Linked DNA regions of Homo sapiens. The protein of the gene in region 1 interacts with the protein of each later gene in a pairwise test. Each region holds a gene or a part of one and is shown on either strand. Other genes may lie near its edges.

The links.
Region 2: the proteins of ZBTB26 (region 1) and EHHADH interact in binary tests that used the Homo sapiens proteins (3 or more experiments, as listed by UniProt).
Region 3: the proteins of ZBTB26 (region 1) and TRIM41 interact in binary tests that used the Homo sapiens proteins (3 or more experiments, as listed by UniProt).
Region 4: the proteins of ZBTB26 (region 1) and ZMYM5 interact in binary tests that used the Homo sapiens proteins (3 or more experiments, as listed by UniProt).

What each region holds. Positions count from the first base shown.
Region 1 is NC_000009.12:122,921,496-122,928,528, reverse strand, and holds part of ZBTB26 (zinc finger and BTB domain-containing protein 26), read left to right. Parts: intron 1-7,033. UniProt on the Homo sapiens protein: May be involved in transcriptional regulation.
Region 2 is NC_000003.12:185,251,021-185,258,160, forward strand, and holds the start of EHHADH (peroxisomal bifunctional enzyme), read right to left. Parts: upstream 3,030-7,140; 5' UTR 3,003-3,029; coding exon 2,929-3,002; exon of another isoform or gene 2,806-2,928; intron 2,253-2,805; exon of another isoform or gene 2,190-2,252; intron 1-2,189. UniProt on the Homo sapiens protein: Peroxisomal trifunctional enzyme possessing 2-enoyl-CoA hydratase, 3-hydroxyacyl-CoA dehydrogenase, and delta 3, delta 2-enoyl-CoA isomerase activities. Catalyzes two of the four reactions of the long chain fatty acids peroxisomal beta-oxidation pathway.
Region 3 is NC_000005.10:181,219,295-181,226,313, reverse strand, and holds the start of TRIM41 (E3 ubiquitin-protein ligase TRIM41), read right to left. Parts: upstream 3,034-7,019; 5' UTR 2,315-3,033; coding exon 1,502-2,314; intron 1-1,501.
Region 4 is NC_000013.11:19,860,650-19,868,108, forward strand, and holds the start of ZMYM5 (zinc finger MYM-type protein 5), read right to left. Parts: upstream 3,001-7,459; 5' UTR 2,801-3,000; intron 2,721-2,800; exon of another isoform or gene 2,178-2,720; coding exon of another isoform or gene 2,175-2,177; intron 1,818-2,174; coding exon of another isoform or gene 1,750-1,817; intron 1-1,749. UniProt on the Homo sapiens protein: Functions as a transcriptional regulator.

The DNA.
Region 1 (7,033 bases):
GTTCAATAGTTAAGTAATTTGCCCACTTCCACATAACAGTTCAAAAAAAAGAACTAGGCCGGGCGTGGTGTCTCACGCCTGTAATCCCAGCACTTTGGGAGGTGGGAGGCTGAGGCATGAGAATCACTTGAACCTGGGAGGCTGAGGTTGCGGTGAGCCGAGATCACACCACTGCACTCCAGCCTGGGCAACAGAGCGAGACTTGGTCTCAAAAAATGAAAAAAAATCAAAAGAAGAATTAAATCTATATTCATCAACATAAATTGCTTTCAAAAACAATGAGTGAAAAAAGTAAGTTGCAAAACAATATGTATAGTTTATGTATAAGAAACTTAATTACGTTATACTTTTGTGGCTAGACATATAGAAGTATTGTTTTTAAAATGCCAGGAGGGGCCGGGCACAGCGGTTCATGCCTATAATCCCAGCACATTGGGAGGCCGAGGCGGATGGATCACTTGAGGTCAGGAGTTCAAGAACAGCCTGGCCAACATGGTGAAACCCCATCTCTACTAAAAATGCAAAAATTATCCGGGCTTGGTGGTGCATGCCTGTAATCCTAGCTACTCAGGAGGCTGAGGCAGGAGAATTGCTTGAACTCGGAGGTGGAGGTTGCAGTGAGCCAAGATTGCACCACTGCACTCAAGCCTGGGCAACAGAGCAAGACTCCGTTTCAAAAAATAATAAATAAATATATAAATAAATAAACAAAATGCAAGGAGGGAGAGTCAGGAAGGATCAAACTTAAACTGAATACTGAGTGGTAGGCAGTTGAGAAGGGGAATTACATCTAAAATCTTCAAAAATTTTTCAAGAAGAATACATTCTGTATATATTACTTAAAAGTTGAAACAAAAGCTTGATAACTTGGAGAGTATCGTGTCATGAAAGTTACCTAAAAGAAGAACAAGATTAAGGTTTATAGAGAGAAAGGCTGTAGTATAATACAGCCTCTTTAGAAAAAGAACATACCATGTCAATGAGGGACAAAGATTTCCAAGTAGTTTTGAGTGGTAAGTTGAAAGATAAGGGCACTTTTATGAGACAGGTGAGGAAGCAAACTGATACCTAGCTTAAGAATTTATTATACAGATAGAAAAATTTTACTTGCCAGTAGTTATTAGAAGCATTTGAGAAAAGAAACTATTTTCTCACTGCCTGTAGTATAGCAATTTACATTGTCCCACCTGGAATATTCAGTAATTAGTCATTTTTTACTATCCTCATTTGAACAAAGGGAAAATTTCAAATTAGTTATAATTGTGGAAGGATTGTATAAATATAAATGAAGAGGAAGTGAGAATATTCCCATTACATTGATGTTTGAGAAATATCATTCAAAACTTGCTAATAGAAACTCAACAGTATTCAGATTTAATCTCAGTAACTGAGGCAATAGATAATAAAGACCTGAACTATGGCAATGATGTAAGAATGGAGGAGTGAGGAGTTGGTGATCATTCTGAGGAAAGAATCAACAAAATATGATGACTGTGTCTCTGATCTACCTGATCAGTTCTTTACTTTCCTTCAGTTACAAGAAGCTTGACTATAACCTAGAATTATCTGAGTGATTTTTATGATTATTTTGAGTAATTACTGCTATACTTAGAAGTTACCTACAGTTGGGGATTGTGAAATCAAATATATTCATAATTTTTATTGTCTGCTTTATTTGCAAATGGCATTAAGTTTCAGTCCACAAAGATAAATACACAAAAGATGGAAAATAATATAAAGTAAAATAGATGAGAAAGGTATAATAAGGATAAAGGCATAATATGCAATCAGGAATATGACTAATACATATATGCTTGCCATTTAAGTCTTCTAATTTCATGCAAATTTGGCTTGAAGTTATAACTTGTTTTTAAACATAAACCTTTTTTTGAAGCATAACAAAAACAAAAATATACAAGTCATAAGTGTGCAGCTCAATGAATTTTCTTGGCCTGTGTTTGTGATACTGAATGTAAGGAAGGAAATCTGAAGAGTTACACAATTTTTTTTTTTTTTTTTTTTGAGACGGAGTCTCGCTCTGTCGCCCAGGCTGGAGTGCAGTGGCACAATCTCAGCTCACTGCAAGCTCCACCTCCCGGGTTCACGCCATTCTCCTGCCTCAGCCTCCCGAGTAGCTAGGACTACAGGTGCCCGCCACCACTCCTGGCTAATTTTTTTTTTTGTAGTTTTAGTAGACACGGGGTTTCACCGTGGTCTCGATCTCCTGACCTCATGATCTGCCCACCTCGGCCTCCCAAAGTGCTGGGATTACAGGTGTGAGCCACCGCACCTAGCCGAGTTACACAATTATTATCCTTGAGATAAAACTGTACCAGCCAGGTGCAGTGGCTCACACCTGTAATCCCAACACTTTGGGAGGCTGAGGCAGACAGATTACCTGAGGTCAGGAGTTCAAGACCAGCCTGGCCAACATGGTGAAACTCCATCTCTACTAAAAATCCAAAAATTAGGCCTGGCGCAGTGGCTCATGCCTGTAATCCCACCACTTTGGGAGGCCGAAGCAGGTGAATCACCCGGGTCGGGAGTTCGAGACCAGCCTGACCAACATGAAGAAACCCCGTCTCTACTAAAAATACAAAATTAGCCAGGCGTGGTGGCGCCTGCCTGTAATCCCAGCTACTGGGGAGGCTGAGGCAGGAGAATCACTTGAATCCGGGAGGTGGAGGTTGCGGCAAGCCCATTGCACTTCAGCCTGGGTGACAAGAGTGAAACTCTGTCTCCAAAAAAAAAAAAAAAAAAAAATTAGCTGGGCATGGTGGCAGGCACCTGTAATCCCAGCTACTCAGGAGGCTGAGGCAGGAGAATCACTTGAACCCAGGAGGCAGAGGTTGCAGCAAGCCGAGATCACGCCATTGCACTCCAGCCTGGGCAACAAGAGTGAAACTACATCTCAAAACAAGAAAAAAAAAATTGTACCTAGATTAGTTGTTTCATACCTGGATTTTGGCATCATGCAGTGTAAACCACCAGTTCCAGATCTAACACTTAACACTTTCAACCTCCGTTGGGGTTTACAAGTTATTTATGTTTTCTAAGCTTAGTTTCGTCATATACAAAATGTGGGATAATGGTAATACTTACCTGTAGAAATTTTCACGATTAAATGGGTCAATTTATTTATTTATTTATTTATTTATTGTGATAGGATCTGGCTCTTTCACCCAGACGAGTGCAGTGGCATGATCATGGCTCACTGCAACGTCTGCCTCGTGGGCTCAAGCCATCCTCCCATTCAGCCTCCCAAGAAGCTGGGACTACAGGCGCATGACACCACGCCCAGCTAATTTTTGTATTTTTTGTAGAGACGGGGTTTCACCGTGTTGGCCAGGCTGATCTCAAAGTCCTGAGCTCAAGCAGTGTGCCCACTTCAGCCTCCCAAAGTGCTGGAATACAGGCATGAGCCACTGTGCTCGGCCTAAATGGGTCAATTTAGGTATAACATCTATACCTGAAATGTAGCAAGGAAGATTAGGTATCATTTCTCTTATTTTTAAATAAAATTAAGATGGTTCATAAGAAACTTTTTTTAACTATCAAAAAAAATTTTTTTTAAGTGTTTAAAACAGGTTCATGCCTGTAATCCTAGCACTTTGGGAGGCCTTGTGGGAAGACTGCTTGAACCCAGGAGTTTTAGGTTACAGCGAGATTTGATTGCGCCACTACACTCCAGCCTAGGCAACACAGCGAGACCCTGCCTCTACAAAAAATAAAAACATTAGCTAGGTGTGGTGGTGTGCACCTGTAGTCCTGGCTACTCAGGAGGCTGAGGCAGGACGATTGTTTGAGCCTTGGTGCCAAGGCAGCAGTGAGCTATGATTACGCCACTGCATTCTAGCCTGGGTGACAGATGACAGAGTGAGACCTTGTCTCAAAAAAAAAAAAAAAAAAGAAAGTTGAAATTTGGTTTTATATTGCCAAAACTATTTTGGTAACAAACCCTAGAAAGAAAGCTTTCCCTAGGCACTCAAAAGAAGATATCATAATGAAGAGCATCTGTACCATAGCCTAGTAATAATTTCATGGGGGAACATTAAGAACTCATTATTCTTCTGTTTTTTGTCAAATGAGCTGTATAAAGTATAACAAACCATTGGTCATTGCCCTCAAATAACTAACAGTCTATTGGAAAGAGAAACTAGTGAAAGGAAACAATTAAGGGATAAGATGTGTGGCCTGGAAATAAGAATTTATCAGAGAGAGACAATAGAGTGGGCTGACACATCCTAGGGAAAACATCCTTTAAGAAACCAATAAATTTTGCTCACATTCTTAGACTACAGCAGACAGATCAAAGCAAACACTTCCCTGAACTATCTGGTTGGCTGCTGTTGTTGATAATTTTCTTGAGAACTGATGGATAGGAAGCACAGTCATGCATCACTTAACAACTGTGATGTGTTTTGAGAAATGCGTCGTTAGGTGATTTCATCATTTTGTGAATATCACGGAGTATACTTAATGCAAACCTAGATGGTATAGCCTACTACACACCTGGGTTGTATGACACAGCCTGTTGCTCCTTGGTTATAAACCTGTACCACATGTTACTATACTGAATACTGTAGGCAATTGTAACACAATGGTGTTTGTGTATCTAAATATAGAAGAGGTACAGTAAAAATATGGTATTATATTCTATGGGACCATCATTGTATATGCAGTTCATTGTTGAACAAAACACTGTCATATGACACATGACTAAATGAAACTACACTCCAGCTCTTCATCTTTAGAGCAAGGAACAATTGTCTCTGAGGATAGTTGTCTAAAGCATTGTGAGTACTGTCATAATATAGGTAGAACCAATGAATGCTTATTTTGGGGTGTGAGGAGGGAAATACTGATCTGAGGGTTTCATAGGCACCTTCAAAACCAGCTAAATGCTAAAAAAGAATGCCACTTTTGTTTGGCCACTTGAAACAGTCATTTTTACAACTCTGGTTACAAATTGGAACATTCATCACTCCAAATCCAAAATGAGTATTTTAAGCTACTGCAGTTGCTAAAAGTGACCAATGATAATAGTTTTGCTGCTTTAAATTACTGACATTTTCCCTGTATATCTTCTACATTTTCCCTTCATGTTTGATACTCACTGTCTTTTCTCTGATGTTTCATTTGCTTGTCTACATCGCTCCTCTCTCAATGCAGTTTTTGTATTTATTGTGATTATCGGTACATTCAAAATGTCATACAAGGGGAAAGATTATGCTTTGTTTGTGTTTTTATTAATATACTTATTACTTCTTCTTATATTGGTGCCACACCAGTTCCCCCTCCTAAATTTCACCTCTCTTTCTTTTTTTTTTTTCTTTTTTTTTTTTGAGATGGAGTCTTGCTCTGTTGCCTAGGCTGGAGTGCAGAGGCGCAATCTCGGCTCACTGCAACCTCCACCTCCCGGGTTCAAACAATTATCCTGCCTCAGCCTCCCGAGTAGCTGAAACTATAGGCGCCCGCCACCATGCCGGGTAATTTTTTGTGTTTTTAGTAGAGATGGGGTTTCACTGTGTTAGCCAGGATGGTCTGGATCTCCTGACCTCGTGATCCACCAGCCTTGGCCTCCCAAAGTGCTCACAGGTGTGAGCCACTGTGCCTGGCCGGTCACCTTCTTTCAATGCCATTCTCATTCAAATGAACTCCTAAATGTAGAATCTTTACACATTCCTTTTATTCATTCTCTATATCCAGTCAGTTACCAAGTTCTTTGAAATATCTTTTGTTATTTTTCCTTTCGTCTTATTCCCATTTTTATTTCTTTCTAGGCCATCATGGCCTCAGACCTGCAATGCTTCTGCAGACACTAAGCTGGTCTTCCTAACAACAGTTCTTCCTTACCACTGTCAAACTAATCTGATAGGTTCAACTAATGCAAACTGAGCACTTGCTGTGTATTTAGTGCAGTCTTAGGCGATGGGAATACACACTGATTTGAACAGAAGAGGGTTTGGCCAGTAATGGGACAAGCAATGTAGCTGCAATAAGTATAATATAATTCAAAGCAAAAGTAAAGAATATTTTGTCTTAGAAGATGCAAGTTCCCAGCATTAGATGGAGATACTTCCCCCTAATACCATGAAACTTGGAGTTTGGATGGGAAGGAATAAGTATTTAATAAAGTGTGTTGAGTGTTACAGTAGAAGTATGCAATGGGCCCAGAAGAGACAATTCTACTCTATTAAGCGGTCAGGGAAGGGCCTCTCAGAGAAAATAAAGGAGTCACAATTGTTTAGAAAGTGGTGTTTTTGTTTGTTTTATTTTACTTTGTTTTTTTAGACAGAGCCTCATTCTGTCACCCAGGCTGGAGTGCAATGGCACAATCTCGGCTCGCTGAAACCTTCACCTCCCAGGTTCAAGTGATTCTCCAGCCTTGGCCTCCTGAGTAGCTGGGACTACAGGCACGTGCCACCACACCTGGGTAATTTTTGTATTTTTCATAGGGACAGGGTTTCACTATGTTGGCCAGGCTAGTCTCGAACTCCTGACCTCGTGATCCACCCACCTCAGCCTCCCAAAGTGCTGGGATAACAGGCATGAGCCACCATGCCTGGCTTGTTTTTTGTTTTGGTTTTTGTTTTTGTGATGGAGTTTTGCTCTTGTTGCCCAGGCTGGAGTGCAGTGGTGCAATCTTGACTCACCACAACCTCTGCCTCCCGGGTTCAAGTGATTCTCCAGCCTTAGCCTCCTGAGTAGCTGGGACTACAGGCATGTGCCACTACGCCCAGCTAATTTTGTATTTTTAGTAGAGATGGGGTTTCTCCAAGTTGGTCAGGCTGGTCTTGAACTCCCGACCTCAGGTGATCCGCCTGCCTTGGCCTCCAGAAGTGCTGGGATTACAGGCGTGAGCCACCATGCCCAGCCTAGAAAGTAGTGTTTTAAACTAAGGAAACAAGTATCATTAGGTCTGGAGCCAAGAGAGAGCTGTTATGTATCAGGCATTAAGGAATAAGAATAAAACCTGGACTCTGCCATCAGGAGCTGATATCCATTGTTACAGAAGTTAAGATGATAAAGA
Region 2 (7,140 bases), on another chromosome or scaffold:
AACAGATACGCACTTTACTAGATTCAAGCTGACAGAGAGAGTCATAGCAATGTAAAGGCCGCAGAAGTTATGAAATTATTTTCTCCTGTTAATACTGTCAGGCATGAAGAAATAGAGTCTGGAGTAGAGACAGCATTTCATGACTACTGACCAAAACTCTTCAGCTTCTTTGACTATAGAAGGTCTTTCCTTTTTTTTTTAGACAGTTTTTTTTTTTAAACCAAAAGTCATCAAATCAAGTTTGTGGCTTGTGACCAGGATTTTTTCAAAGAAAAAGAAGAGATGAGAAAATAGACTATATCAAACAATATACCAAGTAAGGATAGGTTTTGTTTTAGGAAACTGCTTTCGGTTACGTGTTTGTATGTAAGTGTGTCTTGAATTGCTACGTAAAAACGTGAGCTTTCTTACTCTGTGGATTACAGTAAAGCAATCGTGTGAAAGCCATTGTTCTGGGAGACAGGCCTATTAATCAGGCATGTCCTATACTTATAAAGAGGGCTGGTGTTTATCTGAATGGAAGCAAACATGGCTGGCTAAACTAGCAATGAAGGATTTAAACTATTTGTTTTGGGGAAAAAATTTATATGTGTGTGTGTGTGTGTGTGTGTGTGTGTGTATTACACTCAAGTAAGAATCTCTCAATCAGCTAGGAGGAGACGACTTCCCATATAAAATTAGAAATAGGAAGGGGAAAAGGAAGAAAGGGAGGAAAGAAAAAGTGTAAGAAAAAAATTGAGGAATCTGTTAAACTTGAGGAACTCCTAGGATGTCCATTTCTACCTAAAAAAGTTCAGAAGACAGACAAAAAAGGGCAGAGAAGTACTTATTCCCAAGTGGAGAATATCTTCTTGATGAAACTGAAGTGGGTCCTGAGTAGCAGGGCCTGTTTTTGGGGCTTGAACAGGTCTTCTGACTAATAGGAATAACTAACATCTATTAAATGCCACTTCATAATTTCCAGCTGATTTAAACTTCACAACTTTATGAGGTAGGCCCTAACATTTCTCCTGCAAAGAGGATGGGGGTGGCACAGGTGGTTGCATGGGTGGGCAAGGAGAGCAGGTTAAATTCCAGAAATATTAAAAGCAATTGTCAGAGGCTGGGCACGTGGCTCATGCCTGTAATCCCAGCACTTTGGGAGGCCGAGGCAGGTGGATCACGAGGTCAGGAGATTGAGACCATCCTGGCCAACATGGTGAAACCCCGTCTCTACTAAAATACAAAAAATTAGCTGGGCGTGGTGGCACGCACCTGTAGTCCCAGCTACTCGGGAGGCTGAGGCAGGGGAATCACTTGAACCCGGGAGGCAGAGGTTGCAGTGAGCTGAGATCACGCCACTGCACTCCAGCCTGGCGACAGAGCAAGACTCCGTCTCAAAACAAGCAAATGAGCTTAAAAAAAAAAGAAAAAAAAAAAACAGTTGTCAGAAAATATTCCTAGTCATGGGTATTAGAGTATGGAACTTTTCCCCCTAAGGTCCTAATATCTAGCAATTCTAATCAGTATATAGACCAGTCCAAAATTGACATGTAATCATATTACTTACATTTTTCTTTGTCAAAACCAATATAACAGATATTTTGCTTTTTATTCTGGGAATGGCAAGTTAGTAGACATGTCATCCTTATGTGATTTTAGTCCTGCATTTTTTGACATTATTAAATGCAATAATTCATAATGAATTAATATTAATACTAATGATAAATCAAATCCAATGACAGTAGGATTTTTAAATTCTATTAAAATTAGCAGGTCTTCTCATTTCAGTCTCTTTGCTTCAGCAGCATGTTATAAGAATTTTGACCAAAGACCTTTCTCTCTATGCTTTATATATTCTTGATAAATTATAATTTCCACTAATCTTATTCCCTGTGGATAGGTAATTCTTTTTCAAGGCTGACATATAATTATTTTTTTAAGAGATGTAGAAGGACCAAACCAAATAATCATTACTTTTCAAAAAGGCAACATTGATCTCACTTTTTAATGTTTAAAGTGCACCACACAAGGCAAATACTCCCCAGTGAGAAAAAGAAGATAAGGTGCAATTTTTCAGAAAATGCTATTGCATAGGCTTAGTCTGATGTGAGTCTTCCTTGGAAGCACCAAAGTCCTGAGGTTTAAACAAATCAGGAGAAATAATTTTGCGTTTCCGGGCCAGGGCAAAATTCTGCTTTAATCACTGAGCTGGCATTAGTGGGACTTTTAACATTAAAAAAAAAAAAAAAAAAAGTCCCACTAATGCCAGTGATTGCCCTATTCCTAAAGCCTTTAGCCAAACATTGTAAGGACAGCCTGGACTCAAAGAAGGGGAGTGAGGCTGGATCAAAGTCCAACATCAAACTAAGTTAAGACCTTTGGATTAGAAAGTCGGCCTGCACACTGGGACCTGTTGTGGGGTGGGGGGAGGGGGGAGGGATAGCATTAGGAGATATACCTAATATTAAATGACGAGTTAATGGGTGCAGCACACCAACATGGCACATGTATACATATGTAACTAACCTGCACGTTGTGCACATGTACCCTAAAACTTAAAGTATAATTAAAAAAAAAAAAGAAAAATAAAAAGTCGGCCTGCAAAGCCAAAGTTGCAAGTAAGCAGGAGGGCTCCGCATGAAGGACAGGTCGAGGCCAACTCCCTAAGTGTTGATCTGTCTCAGCCTCAGCCTCAGTTTCCTTATCAGTAAAACGGGGACGAGAGTTCCCTGCGAAGATTAACCAAGCTAATCTAGGTTAAAAAAAAAAAAAAAGAAAAGAAAAAGAAAGAAAGAAAAGAAAAAAAAAGTTCCTGGCATGTACCAGTTGCTCAACTCTTGAGTGTCCTTCTCGGTTTAAACCGACGGGGGAGAGTCAAAGCCTCCGGAGCCAGAGGGCGGCTAAGGCCCGCACGGTCCCCGGGCTGGAGGCGACCGAGCCCGTTACCTGATCGCGTTGACCGGCGGGTTTCGGAGGCGGATTAGCGCCAAGGCGTTGTGCAGCCGCGTATACTCGGCCATGTTTCCTCTATCACCGAGGGCACCTCTGCCTCTCGCCGTCAGGCAAACCACTTTTCCGGGCGCGCCCGGCCTCCTCCAGAGGAGGGACGCCGGCTGGGCCAATGCGAGCCGGGGCGCCGCCTCCCGCCGCGCCTCTTCCCACCCAGCCCTCCTCTCCCGAGACCCCACCCGGCGCTCTACAGACGCTTGTCGCTTTCCCTTTATTAACTCCCATGCTGCTCCCACCAGAAGGTACAGCAAGGAGAATGATGGAAAACAGCTGTAATTGCCGGCAAGTCGAAGTTTGTAACCCCTTGGCCCATAGGGGCTGGCTACTGAGGACAAGTTCTGAGTTCGCTGAGACGGGCAAGCTGTCCTCATCGCGGTATTCATCTTCATGATCTTTCTGAACAGGGACAGATACCTGGGGCCCTCCCTGACAGTTATGTGATATTGATACACATCTGGAACACATAAAATACACATTGTTCATTTCACCTAAATGAGTAGGGTACTAATGAAACAGCCTTTGCAAAAATTCTAACAGTGAGAAAATTATGGCAGTCAAAGAGATCTGATTTAACCAACCCCATCTTGCCTTTAGCTGCCCTTAATTATTCCTGAGCTTAGGCCAAGTTAACTTTGGGAGACATTTGGTTTATAGTTTAAATGATAATAGCCCTTCCCCAAAACTCAACTGCCTTTGTAAAGCTAACCGAGAGACCACCAGGCTAGGAGGACAGAGGAGTGTGAATTCTCTCTGCTAAGGTGTAAACATAGACCATTGCCAGCCATTATTCCGGAAGCCACCAGATAGACAACTTCCCCATTTACTCCTGCAGGTAACATTACTATTGTAGAACCTAAGTTTGGCCTTTTGAGATATTTTTTCACGTTTGCCTGACACTGATGGCTCCACCTGGACCAGTCAACAGCTCCTGTGGCCCCACCCACAAGCAACTCAGTACAAGAGGATAGCTTCAACCCCTATGATTTCATCTCCAACCCAACCAGTCAGCATTTTCCATACCCTAGCCCCTGCCCACCAAACCACCTTTGAAAAACCCCTAACCTACTAGCCTTCGATGAGATTGATTTGAGTAATAACTCCATGTCCCATGTGGCGTGGCCAGCCTCACATCAATTAAACTCTTTCCTTACTGCAATGCTGTGGTCTTCCTGAATTGATTTTGTTTGTGCAGCAGGCAGGAAGAACCCATCCAGTGATTACTCTAACATCAACCAAATACTTATATAACATTGTTACTAGAGGAGGGTCTGGACTGCAAGTTGTCCAGGTTCTTGGCGTTTTGAACAAAGAATTGGACGAAACACACAAAGCAAGGGAAAAACAAAGCAACAGAAGCGAATATTTATTGAAAACGAAAAGACACTCCACACGGTGGGAGTGGGCCCAAGAAAGAGGCCCAAGGGACCTTGTTACAGAATTTTCTGGGGTTTCAATACCCTCTAGAGGTTTCCCATTGGTTACTGGGTGTACGCCCTATGTAAATGAAGAGGACGAAGTGAAGTTACGAAGTCATTTACTCAGTGTACACCCTATGTAAATGAAGAGAATATTTCCTGTCATAGCTGAAGTGTTTCCATTTGATTTAGTTCTAGAAAGTCTTTAGGTTCCCTGCCTTCAGGCCCTATACTCCTGCCTCAACATCTTTTTTTTTTTTTAATTTTTATTTTTTGAGACGGAGTCTGGCTCTGTCGACCAGGCTGGAATGCAGTGGCGCGATCTCAGCTCACTGCAAGTCCGCCTCCCGGGTTCACACCATTCTCCTGCCTCAGCCTCCCGAGTAGCTGGGACTACAAGCGCCCGCCACCACGCCTGGCTAATTCTTTGTATTTTTGGTAGAGATGGCGTTTCACCGTGTTAGCCAGGATGGTCTTGATCTCCTGACCCTGTGATCCACCCGCCTCGGCCTCCCAAAGTGCTGGGATTACAGGCGTGAGCCACCGCACCCAGCCCACAACATCATTTTTATTTGTCTTACAATCACATGCAACTAGCGAAACTGTTATGGGTGGACGGTGTCCAGGTTCTTGGCGTTTTGACCAAAGAATTGAAAATGCAAAACAAAGCAAGGAAAGAATGAAGTAGCAAAAGCAGAGATTTATTGAAAATGAAAGCACACTCCACAGGGTGGGAGCAGGCCTGAGCAAGTGGCTCAAGGGACCAGTTACAGAATTTTCTGGGATTTCAATACCCTCTAGAGGTTTGCATTGGTTACCTGGTGTATGCCCTATGTAAATGAAGGATGATGGTTGGGTGCAGTGGCTCACACCTGTAATCCCCGCACTTTGGGAGGCCATTGTGGGCAGATCACAAGGTCAGGAGTTTGAGACCAGCCTGATCAACATGGTGAAACCCTGTCTCTAATAAAAATACAAAAATTAGCCCGGCGTGGTGGCACATGCCTGTAATCCCAGCTACTCAGGAGGCTGAGGCAGGAGAATCACTTGAACCTGGGAGGTGGAGGTTGCAGTGAGCTGAGCTTGCACCACTGCACTCCAGCCTGGCAACAGGCGAGTCTCCATCTCAAAAAAAAAAAAATAAATAAATAAAATGACAATTTAAATGTTTAAATGGCCCATCAGGTAGCCAAATGTACCTGAAGCTTTGATTGTAAACCAAACATTGGTTATAAACTATTTTAGCAATTTATAAGTCAGCAAACCAGTATATATTTAATCTGGATCATTTTATCTTTTCCATGATGAGTCACGGAATGCAGAAACTTTAATAACAAAAGCTTTAAGGACTCAGGAAGAACAAGGTGGCCATCTTGGTTTTCCATGAGTCCATGCTTAACACTGGACTTATGTCCTCTTGAATACCAGTTGTTTCTCCAATTTAGGTGCATAGCACTGATAACTAATGGGTTTTCATAGCTGATTTGACTTAGACCATGGAGTTCAAATGACTTTAAATAGTGATAGTTAAAAACACTATTGACAAGGAGATTTGGTTATTTCTGTGGTCTACAATAACACAATAATTATGATTGATAGCATATACTCAGACATATTAGAATTTTAGAAATTCCATACAATTCTGGAACATATATTAATATCATTCACTAATATATAACCTGAAGATGATTAAACATTATTTTTTATTTTCACAATGCTTCCCATGTAACTAAACATATCAAATAATCCTGTTTACCTCTCTTTTGGATGGTTCACGGGCCTGCTGTAGCATCTCAAAGTTTGAGGTCAGAAAAGACAATTTTGAAGCTGCAATTTGATTTTGGGAAGCTTGTTAAATGTTTATAAAAATTAACATTCTCATGCCTTCTCATTATATTTTACCATTCATTCAACCAGTTTGCACAAAGAGGGGCCAGAAGTCCAACTGGTAAGAAATTCTTACCCTTTTGCCGGCATGTCAGCTTTCTTGAGTTCTCTCTCCATGAGCAGCCCTAGTGACCCTGCTCAACTGTATGCAAACAAACACATTGCTATGAATTAAGAATATTCACAAACAATTTACAAATTTTGAAGAAATTAGGCAGAGAGAGAGAAATATGACTCAAGTTCTATTTACAAAAGTATACTCAATATACTTAAAGTATCAGGAAGCCTAATATCCAAAAAGTTAGTTTAAGGTTAAAAAGCTTAGTGTGCTCCACCAATTCCTGTGAGCTCAACAAAGGTAGCCTAGGAATTCCAGATAAATGGAACAAATGATGACTTGGTAGAAATGCATAGAAAATAAAATAACTATTCACAGAACCAAATAAAAGCCTTCCACTAGAAACTAAAACAACAAACAAAAAAATGGTTTTCTATTTATGCGACCACAAGCAAAGCCTGGAGGAGAATAAACAGCAAACAAATGAAAATTAGAAGCAAAAACAAACAGGAACCCCACCCTAAATTTTTCCTACTCAATCTACCCTGGAGGCTACAGTGTTACTCAGGGCCCCCAAACACCCATATAATGAATATTTTATTCCTGATACACCATTCAATATCCTTAAGTCCACCAATATCATCATACATCCTGTACAATCAAGAAATTCACTCTAGGCACATGACCAATAAGTACTCCAGTGCCAGCACTATCCATGCAAAACAGTAAACGGTGTGAAGCAATGCATGCATGTATGTGAAATTTAGCTCCATACTTAACCAGCTTCAT
Region 3 (7,019 bases), on another chromosome or scaffold:
GGCCAACACGGTGAAACCCCATCTCTACTAAAAATACAAAAATCAGCCAGCTGTGGTGGCGAGTGCCTGTAATCCCAGATACTCAGGAGGCTGAAGCAGGAGAATCACTTGAACCCGGGAGGTGAAGGCTGCAGTGAGCCGAGATCATGCTACTGCACTTCAGCCTGGGCAATAGAGTGAGACTCCGTCTCAAAAAATTAAAAAAAAAAAAGGCCACTCTGTAAAAGAAATTGTTACTTGTGATGAGGTAATGTAGGTATGTCTAGCTGTACCACTCAGAGCTGAGAAACCCTAGACACATTACTCTAAAATTGGGGTAACGAAAATAATACCTAAATGAAGTTATAGCAGGAATCAGGAGAAGGTCTGAAAACATGAGTTATAAAACAAAAAAAGCTCTGTGCAGACCACACAGAGGCTACCCCCTCCTCCTCCTGGTCCCACTGCTTCAAACCCATCCAGGCCTTCACTAAGTAGTGCTATTTGTGCTGGCTGCCTTGCAAACAAATCTCCTTTACCTATGTCCAAAGAAGAGTCAAAATGAGAAGTAGGGGCAAGGTATTTGTCAAACTAGAATCAGACTCCAAGAAAGTCACATCAGAAAAGTCAAACAACAGACATCCAAATGGTGGTGGCGTTGTTAGTATACACCAGGGGAAGGGACAGTAAATAACTAAGTCAATTATTACTGAAGCTCTGTGGCCCTCTGTATGGTACTTAAAGCCTCTCTGACTTTGTTTCCCAATCTATAAAATGGGAATGGAAAACATATCAAACTCAGTGTTGTCTGGGTTTTAACGAGACAGTCCATGAAAAGTGCCTAGTACAGTGCCTGGTATACATATAAATGTCCAGTGAATATTAACTATCAATCCTGGACAAATTAAAGTCCAAAGACACTCACAGACTTAATCAAGATTTGACAATGCAACTTGCAGAGCCAGGTCTTCTGACTGAAAAGCTCCTGCTTTCTAGTCAGTGCATAAGAATGACACAGAGCCAACCAAAGTCCTTGAAGACAGAACCAAGCCATATCGTGGTAGGTGGGGAACCCACTGGGAGGCAAGTGCAGAGCATTTGGGTCTGACACTGACACTAGCAGTTATCTCTGTGTTCCTGCTTCTGAGCCTTTTCTTGTCCTTTGAAGCCCCCAGTTCTTTCCATCTCTAGGTGTCTCCGTCAAGGACAGACTTAAGACTCACCCGAAAGAAAACGAGACTTCTGGTAAAGCCCTAGAGACCTGATCTGGCATCACCGGCTTTGCTCTATTTGCTTTGAGGAAGCCATCCTTCCCTGGTCGTCTTCACTGCATCTGCTCTGTGTACAGAATCCTTCTCATTCTAATCCACCTTGGTGGCAGTAAGTGCTTAGATAAGCAAACTTGGCTCACCAATACCATGAGGTTCTTTGGTGGGTGAAGAGATGTTTCCTTTTCCCAGGTCCCCTTACTTCCTCTCCATCCCCCCACTAAACTCCCATCTTCTCTCTGTACTTCTCTCACCTTGTACTCCTGCACCACCTCCTCCAATGGCACCACGCTGTGCTGTTTGTGGCTCCTGGATTCTCGGCACACCACACAGATGGCCTCTTCGTCTACCTCGCAGAAGAGCTTCAGGGCTTCTTGGTGTTTGGGACAGATGCCCTGATCGGTCACGCGGCTCCCTCGACCAGGGGTTGGGTGCATCTGCCGAATCACCTGGACCATATTGGCCAGCTGCAGGTTGGGGCGGAAGCTCCGCCGAGGAAAGCTCTTTCGGCACTGAGGGCATGTGAAGCACCTCCGAGGGGCTGGAGGCGGGGGCAGTGGGGTGACGGGGTCTAGATCCTCTTCCTCAACCTCCTCCAGCACTTCCTCCTCGTCCTCCTCATCCTCCCCCCTCAGGTCCTCCTCCTCCATGTCCCCCAAGTAGTAGTCCAGGTCTTCCTCCTCGTCCTCCTCCTCCCACACATAGTCCATGTTGTCCCAGCTGGACCTGCTCATGCCACTGGTCCAGAACACACCCTCTTCTTCCTCCTCGACCTCCTCCTCCATGTCACCCTCGTAGTCTTCATCCCGCATGGGGGTGTCCCACCCCGCGCCAGCCCCCACAGCCTCCACTTCCTCCTCCTCTCCGTCCTCCTCCTCCTCCTCCCGATCTAACTCATCTCTGTCCTCCTCATCCTCCCCACCCCACAACTGGGTTACACAAACTCGGCAGAAGTTGTGCCCGCAGCCGATGGACACGGGGTCCGTGAAGTAATCGAGGCAGATGGCGCACACCGCCTCCTCCTGAAGGGTCTGCACAGGGTTGGGTGTCATGGCAACGGCAGCCATCTTAGTGTCCAGCCAGCCAGTGTAGAGGTTCGGTGGGGGGGCGAGGGGCGGGGGTCTTCCCTACCGACGCCCTGGCGACCCGGCTCCACCCCCAGCCCTGCCCCTCCACACCTCGCCCCAAGAGCAGCCAGAGAGATGTCCTGCCGACAACCCACCCCAACACAGTGTTCCCTACTCCCAAACGACAACCGTGTCTCTACGAGGGGAGGGGACAGTGCTGGGCGCCACCGCCAAGTCCCTCAGGTGGCTCTGAGTACAAGTCTGCCCCAATGCTCCCTTGGACTCCTCATAAACCCCCGCCCCTCCTCACTTCCTGGCCCCGCCCCTAGCTTCCGGCCTCCTTCCCAACACTTCCGGCGTCTACACACCACCTAAGCTCGCGACTTCCCTCCGCTGTCCTGCTACTCCCCCTTTTTCCCCGCGGGGCCCCAGGGCGACAGGAAATGGCGAGGAGACGCTCTAGTCCGCACTAGAGAACAGGGCGGGAGGGCTAGGACGGTGGAGGCCCGCGTCTCTGTGGTAAGAGGCCGCGGGGAACGCAGAAAGAACAGAGGAACCGCCTACCCCCATCCCCCGCCGCTGGGGAGAAACTTCGGGGGGTAGGGGGAGCGCCTGGCGGCCGTCTGCTTTCGGTGCTATCACCGCATCGGCCAGACGCCATCCTACCCTCCCGGCACAGCCGACTGCAGCCGGTACTCCCCACAGCCGATGCCGGAAGCGAGGGGGTGGGTCCGCGGCGCGCCCTGAAGTACTTCCGGCCCTTCTAGGCAGACGACTTCGTTGTGGAGGACTCAGAGGGTCGTCCGGGTCGGACCGGGGGCGGGGCCTGAGAAAGCGCTTCGCGGGTTAGGGCAGCAGACGCCCCACCCTTCCCCAACTGTAGTCGGCGTTTCGCATCCGAGGTAGAAACTGCCAACCGGACACTGTCTCATGGTTTAGATGAACTTCCCTAACTGCCCAGCAGTGAAGAAGTGGTGACGAATCATTACATCTACATTCTCACAGCATCTCTGCAAAAATAGATGCTTTGTGCGGTAGAAATAATACTTGATGCTTAAATAGCTCTTTAAATTTTATTTTTATAGAGATTTGATGTCGATACATAAATAAATAAATGTTGTTTGATGCGAGAAAAATGACGGGGCCATGATTTATGTACAGAATCTCCAGTGAGTGCCAGACACAGCGTGACGCCAGGGCTGGGCCTGCAGAACTTACCCTGCTCTCAAGGCGGCTCGCGGGAAAACTCCAGATGGACGTCGCGCTTCCTAGGGGGGTGGTCAGGCCTCTGAGTATGTCAGATCAAACGCGCCAAAAACCACGAACCCTCGTGGGTGAACTATGCTAGGCCATTACAGGACCTGCGGACTCGGCTGCGGTGGACAAGTCCGGCTCCAGAACCTGGACACCGCTCAGCCGGCCGCGGCAGGGGTCCCCGGGCCTGTCCTACAAGGGCGCTTGCCTAGAGCTATCCCGGCCGTCTCAGCCGTGTGTGTCTTCAGGACGATGCCGGCAGGAAAGTAGCCAAGGTGGTTTCCGTAGTGTAGTGGTTATCACGTTCGCCTCACACGCGAAAGGTCCCCGGTTCGAAACCGGGCGGAAACACGTTTTGGTCTGTTCGGGAGATTCTCTCCCGAGGCCGGCCTTACGTGGCAGGAAGGACATGTGTGTCCCTGCGCTTCGGAGGAACACGGACTGGGGCAAAACTGAAGGAGAGCACTACTCAAGTAAATTCAGGTCTCGCCCCTCACCTAATCTCTTGCTCTTCCCTTCTGAAGCCTATGCAGCCATCACATGTACAGGAATCCGTAGATTTCAGATCCTCGGCTCTAGTGCCTAGAACAGAGCCAGGCGCAGGCGCTTCTTAGTATTTGCACAGTGGAAACGTGCTTACACCTCTGAGGGTAACCTCCATCTTCAGAGACAAAGTTAGAATACAGACATGGCCGCCCGGCTAGCTCAGTCGGTAGAGCATGAGACTCTTAATCTCAGGGTCGTGGGTTCGAGCCCCACGTTGGGCGTAATTTCGCTTTTTGGAAAGGTTAAGGCAAGTTGTGTTACCTAAGTGCACAAATGGTATTCTCTGTACCAAGACCTAGTGGGTAGCAGATTCACCAACAGTGGGTGTTAGAACTTGGACTAACCTGGTGTTCTCCGATCCGTGTGTGGAAGGCCCCGAGCAGAATTCTCACAACGTTTGCACCCTCGCTAACTCTCAAAGAAAGAATGAGAGGCGGGTACCTGTGGACCAATTCCTGCAGGCCAGCACCGCGGGCTATCGTGCATGCATGACCCTTTGCTGTAGGCCACTCGCCCACGGGCAGCACATATTAGGCATTTTATGTTTACCAGACGGCCTGCCCCCGTCTTGCTGTGAGACTTGCTGTGCTGGAGGGAACAATGTGGTTTATCGAAACTGGGGTGAGACCGCAGGACGACCCCAGGCGTTCGTGAGCGTCAAAACCTATCTGATTCACTCCCACTTTACTGGGAGATTTAGTGGTTAGGCTTCCGCCTTTGTCTCGCTACGACCTGCTTTCGACTCCCTGTCAAGAAAGATGCTTTGTGTCATATGAGACACTTGTCTTCCGTATATTCTTTTTTATGCTCTTGACTTTAAGAGTCTATTTTTGTGAGATGTTGCCCCACAAATACCAGCCTCCACGTTTCCCCCATACATAAATAGAGATAAAAACGGGCCATGCGCCGCGGTGGCTTATGCCTGTAATCCCAATACTTTGGGTAAGCCAAGGCGGGAGGATCGCTTGAGCCCAGGATGGCCTCGAAATTAGTCCTGCAAATATAGGCCTTTTTTCTTTTTTTCTTCTCTTTCTTTCTTTCTTTTTTTTTTTTTTTTTTTAAGATGGAGTCTTGCTCTGTTTCCAGGCTGAAGTGCAGTGGCACCACCTCGGCTCACTACGACCTCCGCCTCCCGGGTTCAAGTGATTCCCCTGCCTCAGCCTCCCGAATAGCTGAGACTACAGGCGCGCCACCACGCCCGGCTAATTTTTTGTATTTAGTAGAAACGGGGTTTCACCATGTTGGCAGGACGGTCTCGATCTCCTGACCTCGTGATCCTCCTGCCTCAGCCTCCCAAAGTGCTGGGATGACAGGCGTGAGCCACCGCGCCTGGCCCCGTTTTGTATTTTTAAGCTGTCGAAGTCTCCTCCGCATACGCACCACACCACGAGAGAAGTCTGTTGATCATAGAAAGCTGGCTTAATCTCGCTGAGCAAAAGATAGCATCGTCTTCTGTCTCAGACGTAAATCAAAGCGGGGACTTATGAGGGCTATATAGTCTGTGAGGGCGGTCTGGGCAGAAGTTGGTCAACGTTTGTAAATAGGCAGAGTCGCTAGTACAATCCTAGCACATGAGTTACTGGTGTTCAAAGCTGGTGTTCAAAGAGTTTTAAGTTTGACATTTCGTCTTGCACAAATTATTTCGGATTCTTTTGCAGACTGTGATTTCAGGGTTATTTTTTACCACCTTCACTGGGACTGGAAAACATTCTTAAAGGATTCTGGCTTTTTCATTAAAGTGGAGATGAAGTGGACAGGCTTCTCTTCTTTGTCCTCTAGCAAGCCAAGGGAACGCCCGCTGGAGCTTTTTGCTACAATTCCTGCTTTCTCTCCTCTCCACCCCTTCCACCCGTCGCCGCTCTGGCCAGGTCAGGTTTGGGATGCCCCTCCAGGCAAGTGACCCAAGCTGCTCCGGGCACAAAGGCGGCAAGCGTTCAACAGTCGGAGAAGCACGACACACACATGAACCTGGTGGGATCTTTGGCCTCCTCCCAAACCCTGTGGTGATGGGGCCTGGGGAGACTGAGGGACTCACTCTGATTTATATTTCAGGGGGTTCCTTCAGGAGTGATGCAAACAGGGAGTATGAGGGGGAGTAAGACTGTCGGAGACAGGGGCTGGAAGGACACAGGCCTGGTCCATACAGGAGGCGGCCGGCGCCGGGTGAGGCGGCAGCCAGAGGGAGACGCAGGTGAAGGAGCGGGATGCAAGGCTTGCAGCGGCGATAGATTTGGGTAGTTCCACAACCTAGATCACAGGCTGAGGATGCGGGAGGGGAGGGAAGAAAAAAACAATGACTTAGGTCTCGAACGGTTGGGCGTTAGATGCTGTGAGATACCTGGAAAAACTGCCCAAGACACGCGTGGATCTGAAGCTTGGGAGAACAGTTCTTGCTGGAACCAGAGACGGAGCTAAGGTGTGGGTCCTGCTGCCAGCCGACGTGACGCTCCAGGGTCAGCCTTGGGCGCTCGGAGGCGGAGACGGGATGGGAGAAAAGCCTGCAGCGAAGCGCCCACCCAGGCCTAGGGTGCCGCACAGTGCAAAGGAGATTGGCAGCGTCCAGTTCAGCACATGGTCTCGTAAGAGAAGGCGTCCATGGATTGGGCCACCTGGAGGCCCGTGGTGACCTTGACCAGAGAATCAGACGCACACAAGAAGGGCTCCCGCCCTGCGCCGAAAGGAGCGGGCCTTCGGGGTCACAGAGGCAGCAAGGATCCCTGATCAGCAGGACTGCGCCTCGCTTCCAAGCAATCCAGGTATTCGGAAATTAGGCGTCGGCGGCGGAAAAACATTTCACAATATTAAGCAATCGCTACTACTTTTAAATTTACATATATGCAGATCTCCATATGACAGGCGTTAAGCGTATTCCAACTCTACATACGTACATACCTTGGATGCTAGG
Region 4 (7,459 bases), on another chromosome or scaffold:
CTAGTCTCGAACTTCTGACCTCAGGTGATCCACCCACCTCGGCCTCCCAAAGTGCTGGGATTACAGGTGTGAGCCACCATGCCCAGCCAACACTTCTAATATAAAAAGAACTGCTGGAAATTAAAAGCTTAGTGGCAAAAAGGAAAAATTCAGCAATAAGAATTGAAAGATAAAGCTGAGAAAAATCTCAAGAAATAAAGGAAAAAATAAAGAGGATAAGGATTATATCTCAGGTGGGGGGGGGGGAATTGTATCTCCCACTAACTATATGCATGTATATGCGCACGTGTGTGTGTGTGTGTGTGTGTGTGTGTCTCAAACCTTATGGACCAGGCTTTTTTTTTTTTCTTAAGACAGGGTATGGCTCTGTCGCCCAGCCTGGAATGCTATGGCACAAACACAGTTCACTGCAGACTCAACCCCCTGGGCTCAAACAATCCTCCCAGCTTGGCCTCTCAGAGTGCTGGGATTACAGGAGTGAGTCACAGTGCCCAGAGCCACTTTACCCATTTTTTTTGAGACAGACTCTCTCTTTGTTGCCCAGGCTGGAGTATAGTGGTGTGATCACTGCTCACTGCAGCTTCAACCTCCTGAACTCAAGCGATCCTCCCACCTCAGCTTTCTGAGTAGCTGGGACTACAGGCATGTGCCACCATGCTCAGCTAATTTTTGTATTTTTTGTAGAGAAAGAGTTTTGCCATGTTGTCCACACTGGAACTCCTGGGCTCAAGCTCTCAAGCTATCCACCCACCTCAGCCTCCCAAAGTGGTTGGATGACAGGCATGAGCCACTGTGCCCAGCCACTTTACCTACCTACCACATCCTGCCACAGTCCTAAGTTTAACTAATTAAAGAGATATGCTGTGAAATGTAAGAAAATAAGAGCAAATAAGTTAGTAGAAAGCAACTAGGGTAAAAGGAAGGCAGGAATACTACTATGGGAGATAAGCTAATCACAAGTTTGTTTTTGATGAGCAATGGAAAACTGTTTGATCAGGGTTGAAAGGACAAAATTGGCAAGAACTGAATCCCAGATAATAAAAATAGAAGTAAAGCTTGTTAAAGAAAAAAAAATCATTTTGTCACTCCTAATGAAATTATTCACACAAGGATTGGTGTTAAAAGCATTAAGTGAATAGCTGACAGAGAAAGGGCATTTGTACTGTACCAAAATGAACACATAGATCACTGTCTAGTAGCAAAAAAAAAAAACCCGAAAAAACAAAAACAAACATTAACTTCCTAACAGAGAGAGATCAGGCCACTCAGATTCGGTGGTCAATCTTAGAATTAGGAATAGTTTGACAACTAGTTTATGTTATCTCCTCGTGTGATGCTAGCTGGAGGACTGTCAGGGTACATAAATAACAGTCTTCCTCAAATACAAGGCAAATATCAACGTCAAAACAACAGATTATTCAGTAGTGTTTCTTTTTAATCCAACAGTAAAAAAGTTTTTCCAATCTACTGGAAAAGAAAAAATTGTTAAATTCAAGGCACTTAAAAGAGAGCTAACTTTAAATCTTGTTCTGGAACTTGAGAGAGTTCCAGTGGTATAAATGTCAGCACTCCCCGTGCCTTCCCAGGGACTACCATGGCTTGGCTCTGGGGACAGGGGCACCCAAGCAATTAGCTTGAAGGCCAAGGCCTTCAAGATAACACAAAGGCAAATCCCTCAGGAAGAACACCCTACTACTGCACTAATTATATTAGACAGCAAAGCGGGGTAAAAAAAAAAAAACAACTCACAATGGAGATATTTCCTTCTTAATTTCTGCCAAAGCCTCACGACATAGGCTTGAAGGTGATTCCTGGTCCTAGAATGAGAATTGAAAACCAATTTCGGTACAACCAATCTGGATGCACAACCAACTCAACACCGTGAGGTGGCAAAGGGGTAAGAGGCCAAGGAGTTCCTGGGCTCTGCTACCCTCCCCCACCCTAATGTTACCGAGAAACTAAGTTGAAAAAAAAGAACTATAGGAACCGCAACGACGAGACAAAGCTAAAAGTGCTTCGTCCAACTGCAGTACTGGGGATGCAGTGGGCTCGGGGATCCGAGGCCTGCTCCCAGGACGGGAGAGGGAAGGGTAAACGTCGTCTCGACGCCAGCAAGGGATTTGTATTCCCTCCTAAATTTGCCCACCCAGCGTCATCTCTGTCACTCCAAGCACCATTTCAGAGGTAACGGGCGGCGCGCATCACCTCTGGGCCCACAGTTGCCTCAAGAAGTTGCCCTGGGGCCCCAGCAGTCGACGACAGGGCCCCAGATCCGCCATTAAACTCGCCCAGATCAGCAGCAAAGAGTAAAAGCCGCGCAGCGCCTGGGAAAAGATGAGCGAAGGAGGGGACCCAGCGGGGCAGAGGCAGAAGCCCTCGCCCGAAAAACCTGGGGACCTCGGCTCCGGCGGCAGGGTGGCAGCGCGGTCCTGACAGCGAAGACCCGGCCGGGGCGCCCCTCCCTCGCCCAACCCGCCCCCCGCCACTATGCGGCAGGAGAGAAAGAAAAATGCCCCGCGACCTCCCCGGGCGGCCGGCAACCCGCCCCGCCACCCCGCCTCCCCGCCGGCCCCGCGACCTCCGCCGCTGGCGACCGCCTCACCCAACCCTCCCGGCCTCGCTCGCACTCTCCCAGCCCCTCAGGCCGGACGCAAAAGCGCCGGTGACAGGAGGGCAGCCCCGAGCTGCCCTCGAGGCCCCGAAGCGGCAACGGCGACGGCGGCCGCGCCGCGGGGTATTAATCCCGGGTCGGTGGGAGCCTCCGGAGGCTGCTCTCACCCATCTCCGCCTCCCCACTCACCTCGGCCTCCGCCTCCTCCTCCGGAGGCTGCGCTGCTCCCAGCCACCCCCACTCTCAGCGGCCCTGGACTGGAAAGACAGCGGGGATAAGCGTCACCCGGTTCTGGCTGCGGCTGCGCGGAACGAACAAGCCCACCCCGCTTCGGCGACAAGCACAACTCCGCGAGGTCCAGTCCCGGCTTTTCGCGCTGGTGAGGAGGCGGAGAAGCAGGGGACGGCGCAGCAGAGCCCGAGGAGGCCCCACCCTCCGTGCGCTCGTTGGCTGGCGAGGGAGACGAGCCTGGGCGCCTTGGGCACGCCCATTGGCTCCGACGGCCGTCCTTCAGGGCGCCCCCTCGGTGGGGTGGCCGAAGAGCTGTCCGTCAGGTGCGGGCCACACCCGCGGCCCTGCAGTTCCACTCCCGCCTGCCAGCCCTCAACTCCCGGTCGGGTTGTCTCCCCGCCGGTCTCCCGCCCCCAGCTACCGGGTCCGCCAGGGTCAGGAGCCCGAGATTCGCCGCCCGTCGTAGCGGCCCGCTTCGGCCCCTCGGGGCCCGGGGCTCTCCGGGACCTACACAGCCCGGGAGACTCCGGCGGGGCTGCCTGCCCTCGCCCGAGCCCGGGGGCCCAAGCTGCGGCAGCGGCTCCCAACGCCTCTGCTCGAGGAGAGCGGCGGCCTGGATGCCCCAGCGCCCTCCCTGTCCAGTTCCTTGAAGGCCCCCAAGAGGGGCGAGGCCGGGGAGGTGCTGGAGCGGGGCCAAGTGAGCTTTCGGGGCCGCGGTTGAACTGGAGTCTTGAGTGCGCTGCGGTCAGTGGAGGCCCTTCCACCCTCGCCGCGCCCCGTGGGGAATAGTCCCCCACCTCCCGCCATGGCTGCAGCAGGAGGAGACGACGTCCTCCATTTTGTCGGGACAACTGTGGGAACTTGGGACCCCTCAAAACCAAACCCCGTGGGGCCAGGACTTGTCCCGGAAGCCCCGACTGGGCTCTGCCATTCGGACAAGGGAACAGCCCCAGCTGCCGGCGTCTGCGTCCGCGGGGCAGTACTGGTCGGGCGCGACGGTGGAGACACCCAGACGCAGCTCCCCGCCTCCATCAACCAAGATGGAGGGAGCTGCAGGCTCCCTTGGAGCTGGGCTCTCGCGGGTTGGAGGGGCTGAGGCCTGCCCTGGGGCGTCCCTGGGCGCCGCCGTCCTGTGCTAGCAGCCCGGGGCGCTGGCCCTGCCTAGGCCTTTTTACTGCCTGCCACCGTCTCCTGGTCCGGAATGGTTGATGGAGACTCCATGGAGGCTCCCTCCACAGCCCGCTCTATCGCGGGGCGCACCCGCTGCGGCCCCTGCGGGGAGCAGAATCAGGGACAGATGGCGCCCGGTGAGGGCGGGCCCCACAGGCCACCTCCACGAGGGGTCTTCTCTTTTGTTCCTCGTCTACACCTACGTCTTCGGCGGATGTCATGGTGCTGAACCATTTCCCGGACTCCACGTAAAGATGGAAGCGATTCCGCTTTCGTCTCGCCCTGGCGGTTCTTAGTGGGATTACAATTGAGGATGTTAGTTTGGATGAAAGTTGGTGAAATACTTACCTTATGTCTGGAAATACAGATAATGTGATTTTTAAAAAACACATTGAGCCCCGTTTTACTTCTGTGGTATGGTAAAGGCACAGGTTTATTCAATGAAAATCAGACGTTAACCATCTAATGCAGGGGTGGCCAATCTTTTGGCTTCCCGGGGCCACATTGGAAGAATTGGCTTGGGCCACACATAAAATACGCTAACAGTAACAATAGCTGATGAGCTAAAACAAACGAAAAAACCAAAACGCCAAAAAAATCTCATAACGTTTTAAGAAAATTTACAAATATGTGTTGGGCTGCATTCAAAGCCGTCCTGGGCCGCATGCAACCCCCAAGGGCTGCAGGTTGGACAAGCTTGATCTAAGACAAAAGCATGTTCACGGATTGATGAGAGTTCTGTGTAAGCCTTTGCATATTGCATAGTGCTGTATGTCATGGATATGCCTAATATCACCTACATTTTTTAGGTCCTCAGTTACTCTTTGGAAATAAGTGAATTACATGTAATGTCATCATTTTAATGACTGCTGTAAATTACAAGCACTGACTACCCTGAGTTCGTGGAGAAGGGCTCCATAGAGAAAATTTGAAGGTCTGACAGAAACTTTAAATGGTAAGCTCAGTAGCCACTTGTCATCTATTTTCTGATTATCTTTTTCACAATTTTTTGGCATTGATACTGTTCAAAGATTAAAATTGGGTAACATTTCTTTTTCCTGATAGTGGCAGGAATGACAGGTTCATGTCCCAATGAAAACGCTCACCTCAGTATGCTGCCATGATTTCGAGGGTTGTCGAAAATTTAGGAAAAAAAAGTCTTCATTGTTCAACAAGATAGTGTCATTTATTGTAAATCTTTTGATAATTCAGGACTCCCGGCTAATACAAAGTCACAGCATTATGACCAAGTCTACACAAAGGGGCCAGATAGCCTGCCTTTGAATCGTACTTTATTACTAGTAGCTGTGTGATCATCTTAACAGATAAGTTACTTAAACTCAGCCTCACTTTTATCATTTAAAAAATGTAACAAATACTTAAGATTTTTTTTTTTTGAGAATTAAATGAATTGGCCGGGCACAATGGCCCACGCCTGTAATCCCAGCTATTTGGGAGGCTGAGGCAGGAGAATCACTTGAACCCAGGAGGTGGAGGTTGCAGTGAGCCGAGACTGCATCACTGCACTCCAGTCTGGGCAACACAGCAAGACTGTATCTCAAAAAAAGAAAAACAAAAAACAAGCAAAAAAAGAATTAAATAAATTATCACACATATGACACTTAGAATTGCACCTGGCACATTAATTAATAAAAGCTTGTAAATTTTGCCTGTCATTGTTAATTCCCAATCAGCACAGTGGTACACTAAAAAAAAAATTCTGGCCCGGTGCGGTGGCTCACACTTGTAATCCCAGCACTTTGGAAGGCCGAGACGGGCAGATCACCTGAGGTCAGGAGTTTGAGACCAGCTTGACCAACATGGCGAAACCCCGTCCCTACTAAAAGTACAAAAGTAGCCGGGCGTGGTGGCGCATGCCTGTAATTCCAGATACTCGGGAGGCTGAGGCAGGAGAATCACTTGTACCTGGGAGGTGGGGTTGCGGTGAGCCGAGATTGCACCATTGCACCCCAGACTGGGCAACAAGGGCGAAACTCCGTCTCAAAAACTAACTAAATAAATAGGAAAAAATTCTTCCAGCCTAGGTAACATAGTGGGACCCAGTCTCTACAAAAAATTTTAAAAATTAGCCAGAAGTGGTGCATGCCTGTAGTCCCAGCTACTCAGGAGGCCGAGGTGGGAGGATCACTTGAGCCCAGGAGGTCAAAGCTGCAGTGAGCCATGATTGTGCCACTGCACTCCAGCATCTGGGTGCAGAGTGAGACCCTGTCTCAAAAACAAAAAAAAAAGTTGTTTATAATAATTTAATGACTTATTAAAGTAACATCAGCACTTTCTTACTATTGTAATATGAAAATATTTAATTCTTGGAGTTAATATGTAAAATAAACCGTAGAGGAAATGTAATTGGAACCAAAATTTATTTATTCTTTGAAAGTGGCTTAGTACAGCCAGGCGCGGTGGCTCACGCCTGTAATCCCAGCACTTTGGGAAGCTGAGGCGGGTGGATCACCTGAGGTCGGGAGTTCGAGACCAGCCTGACCAACATGGAGAAACCCCGTCTCTGCTAAAAATACAAAAATTAGCCAGGCGTGGTGGCACATGCCTGTAATCCCAGCTACTTGGGAGGCTGAGGCAGAATTGCTTGAACTTGGGAGGCGGAGGTTGCCGTGAGCAGAGATCGCGCCATCGCACTCCAGCCTGGGCGACAAGAGCGAAACTCCATCTCAAAAAAAAAAAAAAAAGTGTTGTCTTACAATATTCTTAAATTGTCATCCCAAGTAATTCATAGGGATATTAGAAACATAGATCAAAAACAACTGGGGTGGGGAAGAGAGAAAAGAGACTGAGGGAATTAATGCTTATCTTGGACAAACCAGTGAAAAGCTATTTTAAGCAATAAATAATGAAAATTTATTAGAAGAGAAGGAACAGAATCTAAGATTGAAAAAGCATGAGATGACTGGTTGCTATATTTTTAAAAAGATCTCTAGAATCAGTAGGATGCTTTTTTTTTTCTTTGAGATGGAGTCTTGCTCTGTTGCCCAGGCTGGAGTGCAGTGGCGCAGTCTTGGATCACTGCAACCTCCGCCTCCCGGGTTCGAATGATTCTCCTGCCTCAGACTCTAGAGTAGCTGGCATTACAGGCATGCGCCACCACGTCCAGCTAATTTTTGTATTTTTAGTAGAGATGTGGTTTCACCATGTTGGCCAGGCTGGTCTCGAACTCCTGACCTCAAGTGATCTGCCCACCTCAGCCTCCCAGAGTACTGGGATTACAGGCGTAAGCCACTGCACCCAGCCTGAAACCAGTTTTATCTAAGACTGCTGAGATGGCTTGCTGCAACTTTAGGATTAATTTTGGCCACTGCCGTTGCTCACCATTTGGAGCTTGCCAGCTCCCCAGAACCTTACTAGTGCCAGAGAGCTTTCTCAACAAGCAATAGGTAACATTTCTCTTTTTCATAAAACCCCCAACCTTCTCTT